Regions from separate parts of the Homo sapiens genome. Here regions 1 and 3 are each linked to region 2. The links come from fine-mapping of genetic effects on gene expression. A gene starts in region 2. Each other region holds a variant in brackets. All regions are shown on one strand. Distances are from middle to middle.

Evidence for each region. PIP is the estimated chance that this variant, and not a neighbour inherited with it, causes the effect. A credible set is the group of variants that fine-mapping cannot tell apart.
Region 1: its variant is the best candidate, but not a certain one, in a credible set for the expression of ERBB4 in tibial nerve (GTEx, PIP 0.69).
Region 3: its variant is the best candidate, but not a certain one, in a credible set for the expression of ERBB4 in lung (TOPMed, PIP 0.52).

Annotation. Positions count from the first base shown.
Region 1 is chr2:212,452,727-212,455,492 of GRCh38, reverse strand. All of the region lies in intron 1 of ERBB4 (erb-b2 receptor tyrosine kinase 4), which reads left to right. Among named protein-coding and RNA genes, the nearest start is that of MIR548F2, 28 kb to the right of the region's middle. The variant G/A (reference allele first, on the strand shown) is at 1,427.
Region 2 is chr2:212,537,147-212,539,912 of GRCh38, reverse strand. It overlaps ERBB4 (erb-b2 receptor tyrosine kinase 4), which reads left to right and starts at 1,111. Exons shown (of 28, transcript NM_005235.3): 1 at 1,111-1,464. The coding sequence starts at 1,383. RefSeq lists an enhancer at 2,080-2,580.
Region 3 is chr2:212,117,192-212,119,957 of GRCh38, reverse strand. All of the region lies in intron 2 of ERBB4 (erb-b2 receptor tyrosine kinase 4), which reads left to right. Among named protein-coding and RNA genes, the nearest start is that of MIR548F2, 310 kb to the left of the region's middle. The variant CT/T (reference allele first, on the strand shown) is at 1,397.

The DNA of each region.
Region 1 (2,766 bases), 84 kb after region 2:
TTGCATGCTCAACAGCCATGTGGCTAGTGGCTACCATATTGGACAATGCAGAGAGAATATTTTCATCATTGCAGAAAGTTCTACTGGCTAACTCAGGGCTAGAGGCTGCTACTGACACTGAGAAAACGATAAGATTAGGAGGGTGATGCATATTCATACATGAGATCACCTAATGAGAGAATGGAAAGAAGCATAATAGGTGATTGAATGATTGAAGCCTTACATCCTGGGAGGCACCTAGGTGTTAAAAATAACCCCTTGAAGGTGATCAGGTTGTTGGAAAGGTGGGAGAAAAATGAGAAAATAGCATCATGTAAACAAAAGTCTCTACTGTTTCTTGAATGGAAAAAGGTAATGAAGTCCTCAATTCAAATACAGCAGCAAGGTCCATTAAGTTATGACTTAGCCCCCAAAGGTGGGAAGATGGAGAATTTCTCACGACCTATTTGATTTGGATCAAATTCGTCATGCTAAATGAATATTACATCTTAATATCATAATAATATTGACACTTTGCATTCTGTTTTATAATGTGTGTCACACATTGTTTTCCCTAAAATGAAGTGAGGTGGCGGTCATTTCTCCTGAGTTTTATTAAAAGAAGAAGAATAAAAAAAAAACCTAAAGGAACTGTAGAATCAAGCTGGTTTTCACAAAAATTGAGTCCAACTGCTTCACTTTGTTGATGTGGAAACAGACCTAGAGTGAAAGTGATTTAACTACCTATACAGTTGATGTGCTCTCCACAATACTTGATTACATTGGTCCTATTTGCTGCTCTTACTCCTAGCACTGGAGGAAATATAAATTTAATAGATTGTGATTATGTCTACTAGAAGTGAAAATTTTGATTAATGAAGAGTTCTCATAATAGACTTATGGGAATCATTAAGCTATTTTAGAACAGATAAAATATTATTTATTGCAGAAATAATTTTCATTTTTCCACAGGAGCTCACAAATCAAAAGTTTTCATATTATTATAGAGATTCTAACAAAGTCTGTGGTTTATGCATAAATACTCTCCTCTGAAATATATCAAGTGCAGAGGTGGGAAAACCCACAGATAATAGCTAGCTTTTAAAATTGGCATTTTCATGCTAAGCATTCATTGAGTCTTTCAATATGACAGCATGTTTTGGGTTGTGTGAAAGAGAAATTGTCTTAAATTAGTCTGTCTTCTCAGTGGAAAAGAAGACAAATTGCCAACTTCCTAGTGCGTCACCACAGTAAGTTATAGAAGTTAAGGAATATAGCCAGGCATGGTGGCTCATGCCTGTAATTCCAACACTTTGGGAGGCCGAGGCGGGTAGACCATGAGGTCAGGAGTTTGAGACCAGCCTGGCCAACATAGTGAAACCCCATCTCTACTAAAAATACAAAAATTAGCTGGGCATGGTGGTGCATGCCTGTAGTCCCAGCTACT[G/A]GGGAGGCTGAGGCAGGAGAATCGCTTGAACCTGGGAGGTGAAGGTTGCAGTGAGCTGAGATCGCACCACTGCATTCCAGCTTGGGCAATAGAGTGAGACTTTGTCTAAAAAAAAAAAAAAAGTTAAGGAATATAGTATTGTTTCTGTTTATATATGGAAGATTTGCAATTCATGCACCCAGTGATTCTGGAAAGAAAAGAGAAAATACTTTTTCTAGTACTCTTTGTCAAAGATGTCTGACAGGTTGATAAAACTACGTTTAAATATGTTAAACATGATTAAAATCTGTAGTCCTACATTCTCATTTCATGATTTCTTTTAGCAATGTGTAACTAACATTTCTATGGTAACTAGGTAAAATGATTTTAAAATTTTAAAATAACAACAATAACAAAAGACCCTGGTGTAATAATCATATGGAAACATTAAAAAGCATACCTCGTTTGCTATACAAAGAGGTGACAAGTTGCTTAACACAAATCTCACAAAAACAAAAGAAATTAACCTAATATCAAATTTTGGTAGATATCAATGCAATATATTTAAATAAGAACCCTATTTAAACAAAAAACAAAACACTGAACCTAACAAGTGCAATGTTGATCATGTGTTATTTGTTTTGGAAATTCTCTTACTTGTTCTATCAATGAGTACAATTGCTAGATATAGCTTGGGTGCATTCTTGAATATCTCCATTTTTGAAGGCAGAAGGAGTTTGTATCACTTCTGTCTGCCTTTGAGCATCTCTTTTTGTCCCATGGACCTTAAATGGGAAATCAATGTAGGTCTTTCTTTACAAAGTAGACTTGCAAGGGTTAGAGTCTATATGCGGAGGGGGTAAGGGGAAGATATAAGAAGCAACACCTATAGAGTTATATGCTTGATACTTGATTATCATCATATAACATTTTTATAGTCAGAAAATCCTCATAACAATCCTGTGGGTATGTAGATATAATCCCTGTTTTCTAGTTGAAAAGAAGTATTTGACTAGTCGAGTGATTTGCCCCAAGTTATACAACTTTAAAATGTCAGAGCAAGAGTTTGAACATGTTTTATCTCATTGTAGGGTCTATTTGTTCCAGTAAGATAAATTAACAAATGTTAACAGAGAACTAAATTTTTCTATTAGAAATTATACAGTTTTGAGAACTATATTAGTAATGCTACCTTTTACATTTCCTTGAATGGAAATAATTGTAGTATGTCTTAAAATATTTATGTTTTAAAAACAAATTTTAACTTTTTATCTCTTATTTTAATATTTCTAGTATGTAGATAAGCACTGTGGAGAGGAATTAATTGGTCAAATGAATTTTAAACTTAGAGTCAGTTTTTT
Region 2 (2,766 bases):
TCCAAAGGTGAAAAAAAAACATAAAATCTAAAAATCAAAGGATATGCCTTTATAAATGTGAAAGTTTAGTTTGGCTCAATGTTGGTCAGTTTAGAAATGTGGGAGTAATCGGAGAGATGGCATAACTGGGGGCGGGAGGCGGGGCGGTGATTATACCCCTACCACTACCTAATCCTCAGGGGCTACCAGTTACTTGCTGTACACACTTTTAAAGTACTTTCTAATTGTGGACCATGAGTGGCAGAGTACTGCGGGCGGAGGCTTTTTGCTGAAAGCAACATTGACTTTTATTTCTAGGGAAAGTCTTGTCTGTAGATGAGCACCGTGGGGCAACGGAGAAAATGCTGACTTTCTTGTTTAAAAAAAAAAAAAATTTCCGTAAGCGGCCCTCCAATGGTCCGTCCACTCAGCAGGCCAGCTGTCCCAGGCCTCTGCCAGGGAGGGAAGACGAGTGCTTCAGTGCATGGCTTCGGTGAGCCCTTTAAATCCAGCTTCCCCTGCCCCCACCAAGAGGCTCCCTTTCCCTGACAGGTGTTTTCCCAACTCCGGAGGCCCAGGATTTTGGGGAGTGGCTGAGCCAATAAGATTTCCCTTTGGAAGGGGGGGGGAAGGGCGTGGCTAGTTGGGTCAGAGCATGGGCGGGGTTTGCGCGGCTGAGCAGAGCCGGCCTGGTTGCGTGGAGGGTTGTTTTATTCCCACCGCCCCCCGCACCTTTTTTTTTTTTTTTTCTGGAGTCTTATTAATTTCTCTGTGGGCTGCAGCTGGAGACCGCGGAGCGCTGGAAATGACGCTCGGAGCTTTAATTACCGCAGCCGCCGGACAAGTGTGAGGAAAGCTGAGAGGAAAAAGAAGGACGGGATCCGGGGAGAAGCGAGAAGCTCCCCCCGCCCCGCTCCCCTCCCGATTTGGACTGGAGGTGCAAGGAAACTGAAGAAGGAGCAGAACATAGCCCGGCTGCGGGGAGAGGCCGGAAACCTACCGCCTCTTTGCAATCAACTTTTTTTGGAAACCTTTCGCCCCCCTTCCTTTTTTATTGTTGACCAACCAGTGAGAGAGAGAGAAAGTGAGGAGGGAGCGAGCAAGCGAAGGCTCACGCGGGGAAATAGCTGCACAGTCCGGCCCAGAGCGCCAAGCGCACACACCGAGCACACTCCCACACGCGCACACACGCGCTCACACTCGCCCCCTCCTCGGGCCCCGGCCCTGGACCCGCGGGCGCGGACTCGGTCGCCCGCCCTGGGAGTCGCCACACCGCGCGCGCCGCGCCCGCCCCCCTCGCACCCCCACGCGCGCCCGGCTGGGGGATCTCCTCCGCGTGCCCGAAAGGGGGATATGCCATTTGGACATGTAATTGTCAGCACGGGATCTGAGACTTCCAAAAAATGAAGCCGGCGACAGGACTTTGGGTCTGGGTGAGCCTTCTCGTGGCGGCGGGGACCGTCCAGCCCAGCGATTCTCAGTCAGGTGGGTTCCTTCTGGCACTCCGGTCGCCGAACCTGCAGCCGCCGGCGGGGCTGCCTCGAGTGGCTCCCCTGCCCTCTTCACCCATCCCGGGAGGCGTGGAGGGACCGCTTGACCGGGGCCTCTTCCCTGGGCTTTCGGTCACCCCTCTTTCCATTTGAAACTTACCCTGTATGTGTGCGTTTGCTTTATTTATCGTGAAAAATCACTCTGAGTCCCTCTTTTCTCTCCTTAACCCCCTGCTTTTCTTTCCCGAGCGTTTTGTTTGGGAGCCTAAGCGGGATCCCTTCTGGTGGCGCCTGTTGTTCGGGACATGGGAGACCCAAATCCCCAGTCAGAGGAGACTCTTCTGTCCCTGTCGGGTCCCCGAGGGCAGAACCCGCACCGCCGGGGCCGCGGTCCTGGGGCGGTGCTGGCTGGGCCTCTCCCGAGCCGAGCCCGAAGGGCGGTGGAGAGCGGCGCTCAGAAAATCGGGCTTTGCACCTGTGTGTGCTGCTGGCGACCGCTGCGCCCCCAGTCGCCCGAGCCTTGTGGCGTCAGACGCAACTCGCGCCCAGCCCGGGCAGCCGGAGTGCAGCAGGCGGGCGCGCCTCGGTCCGGGGCCCGGAGTTCTGGGCCTCTTCCGCCGGCTTCCCGGAGCCCTCTCCCCATTGACTTGAGGGGCGCTTACTCGCCTGCCTGACCTCTTAAAAAAAAAAAAAAAGGCTTGGCACACTTGAGCCAGAAGCCCGGCCTTCCCGTCGGTTGCCGTGTTTGGCTCCGGGAAGAGTTCTTCCTGTAGTTCAACTTGCTATTGGCCGGAGTCCTTCAAACTTGTCTGTTTACTGCCCGGCCAGGCTGCCGAGCCTGCGGGTCACTGGATCCACCCGAGGCGAAAGCGGCAGCGGCGATGGGTGCGCGGCCACTGCTTGCTGGAGAGCTCGAGCCCCAGGTACCTGGGCAGGCAAAGGGCTAATTGACCCCGAGAGGCAGCGCGGCGGGGCTGGCCCGCCACGGCTTGCAGGACTAATGACAGCACCTGCAGTGCAATGGAGCTCAAAGTTTCTGACACTAGAGTTTCCTGGGGATGAAAGTGGGACGGGAGAGGTCTGAGGAGGACCGGTGTCTTGACGTGGCCAAGGGGTGCCTTTTGGAGAGCCAGAGAGATTTCCGAAACCATCCAGGGATGGTGACTGGAGCGTGGGAAGTAGCTTGAGGTGATAAAGCCCCCGGGAGTGGCGATAGGGAGCGCTTTAGGCCCCCGGAGGGTGTCCTTCTGACCTCACCAAGAAAACGGCTAGCTGTAGTTTTCCCGCTCCGCCGCCG
Region 3 (2,766 bases), 420 kb after region 2:
CGTCTCCTGAGATTTCAAGAACACAGCAAAAGTGAGCCTTTGCAATTGAATTGAAGATGCACTTTTAAATAATTTTAATGTTTTGTAGATACTTTCCTTAATCTTTGTTAGATACATTTTGTTGAAATGCTTTTAAATGCATTCTTTTCAAGACGCTTTTATTACAGCAATCTTGATGCTTATCTCTGTAAACACCTTTCATGCCAGCTTTCTTCTGACCTCCAGTTCTTGCATTTCTTTTTGGGAAGAGAAATCCAGTTTACTATGTTTAACATTCAACTACCAAGGAACCACATTGCTGGCTAGAAAAAGGCCCTAAAACTTATTTATTATGTATTTTATCACCATCACAAGGTTAAGACATATAATAGAAAGCAGCGAGGCATAAAAATCACAGATTTTGTGCTATTGTCTTACACTTTGTGAACTCTTTAAAACAAGGCAAAATGTAGTAAGTAATGGGAATGAACTATTAGACCTTTTACCCTCATTAGAATTCTTGGGAGCTTTCTCTCCTTTGTCATTCCATTGGTCTTCTTTGCTACTGCTGGCACTTAATAACTCAGTGCTTCTAAAAAGGTGCCTGACCCACCAGCTTTTACATTTTAAATTTATTTTCTGTTTTATATATTAACTTTAAGCAAATAACTATAATGTGTCAATTATGTGTAAAGAAGTATACTATGAAATGTAGATCATATAGTGAGTGTTAACACCTATCCTCAGTCATTGCTATAACGGGTAATAATTTTTAATCTGTGGCTTGAATTTAGTTGTGTGCAAATTATTTTAGAAATAGTATACATTAAGATTATAAGGAGATGAATTTATTTAACAGTTGATGCATGGATGTGGAATAGTTACAATATCGTAATTCATTGGAACTCCTTATGCTGTAGTCTAGAAACCTTAAATTTTAATCATTATACATGTCTTTTATTTCTAATAAATGAATAAAAATAAAGTAATATATAAAGATGCCTTTTAAGATAACATTAATACTCTATTATTGATAGTAAAAGGCAATGACTTTGAAAAAGTCAGAAAGTATAGTTTTTTGAAGCAAAAAGATTAAAAAAGATAACTTCTCTCAGATAATGAATAACAAATGCATGTTATTATGAAAAGGTAACACATTTGAAAAACATAATTTGCTTTTATATATATTTGGCAGAGCTATATGGCTGTTTTTGAATGTACAAGAAATAATGCCATCTAAAAATTTCTATTTTTTTTTAAAAAAACTTTGGAGAAATCATGCAAATAGTTTATTTTTCTCTACCAGAGAAAATGTCCTATTTTTAAATTCAAATATAGCCTTTGTCTTTAGTTAATAATTAACATTTTATAATGCTATGGAATTGTCATCCTCTTTTATTAGGATATGTATGGGATT[CT/T]TCTGAGGATGTTGCTTTTCAACTACTCTTCGTAAGACATAAAATTTGCATTACTTTTCCACTGCTAGTAAAGGATCTATACTATTTCATTCTCTTTCTCATGAATATTCCTCTTCTGACCAATGACAAACATTTGTAGGAAGGCAGAGAAAGCTGCAACTCAGACAGCAAAACACTGCCAATCTTACTGCAGCCAAAGACTTTGGCTTCATTAGCACAGTTTTGTTACAATAAAGTCAGGAGTGATGTTTGACAATGAGTTTCAAGTTGCAACAAGTAACCATGTCTTGATCTATTCCTTCCCTGTTTTCAGTAAGGATGAACAACCATTGAGAGTTAATATGAAATTCTAAAATATTTACGTTTAGCCTACTTCTAGCTTTAGTGCTTCCTTTTCATTGTCCTCTGGCAATTAGAAGCACATGACCAGAATTAAATCCAACAGTGTGGGGGATGGTTTTTATGTTTGTGTCTGTTTTCCATATCTTCCTCATGTACTTTTAACTCTGTGTCCGGGCTAAGCTGTCTGCTGCATAGCATGATTTAGAAAAACCCTACATTGAAGAGTACATATTTCAAAATAAATAGATAATTTATACAGTACTTATTATTTTGAGTTAGAAAATGATTTACTGAATAGTTTGTTCAAATACTAGCTACCAACACCCATCTATATTTATTTTTAGCTTATTAAATACCAGATAGAATGACTTGTGTGGCAGAAATTATGTTGGAGAGAGAGAATCAGGATGAGAAAACTTGTCATATTTTAGAAACATTAGAGAGGAAAACACCATTTAAATTAAACATCTATGACATAACAAAGTGGGTCCACATGAATTACAATCTCATATTTCCCAAAAAAGATGATTTAAGTGCAACATTTTCAGATACAGCATGCATATTTCAGTTATGCACACATTTTGATCTGACTGTATAGTTCCTACTATACAAGCCTGAATTTGTATTCCTGATAAACTTTGTAAGATAATGAAGTGGTATATTTGTCACTCAAAAGGTGAACAAGTAAATGAGAATTCTGTATCAAGCATTTGTAATCTGTAAGTATCTATTCATTGAGCACAGTAGTCTATGTTTTTCTTCCATGTCACTAATTGAGACAGGTGGCAAGAGAGGATTACAAGATCAACATTGAAATACCTAGACTTCGCCATCATTAGATTCAAGGAAACTGTACCTTCAAGAAACTATTGGTTGGGTAAACAAGCATTAAAAAAGAGATGGTGATGGAACTTTTTCTTTAATTCTTTCTGTTTTAATTTCATGTAAAATTGCTTTTGTGGTAAAATGTTACATATTTAGATACTGCATTAACATGATGACCTCTTAGCAGGGTGAGATAAAGAAT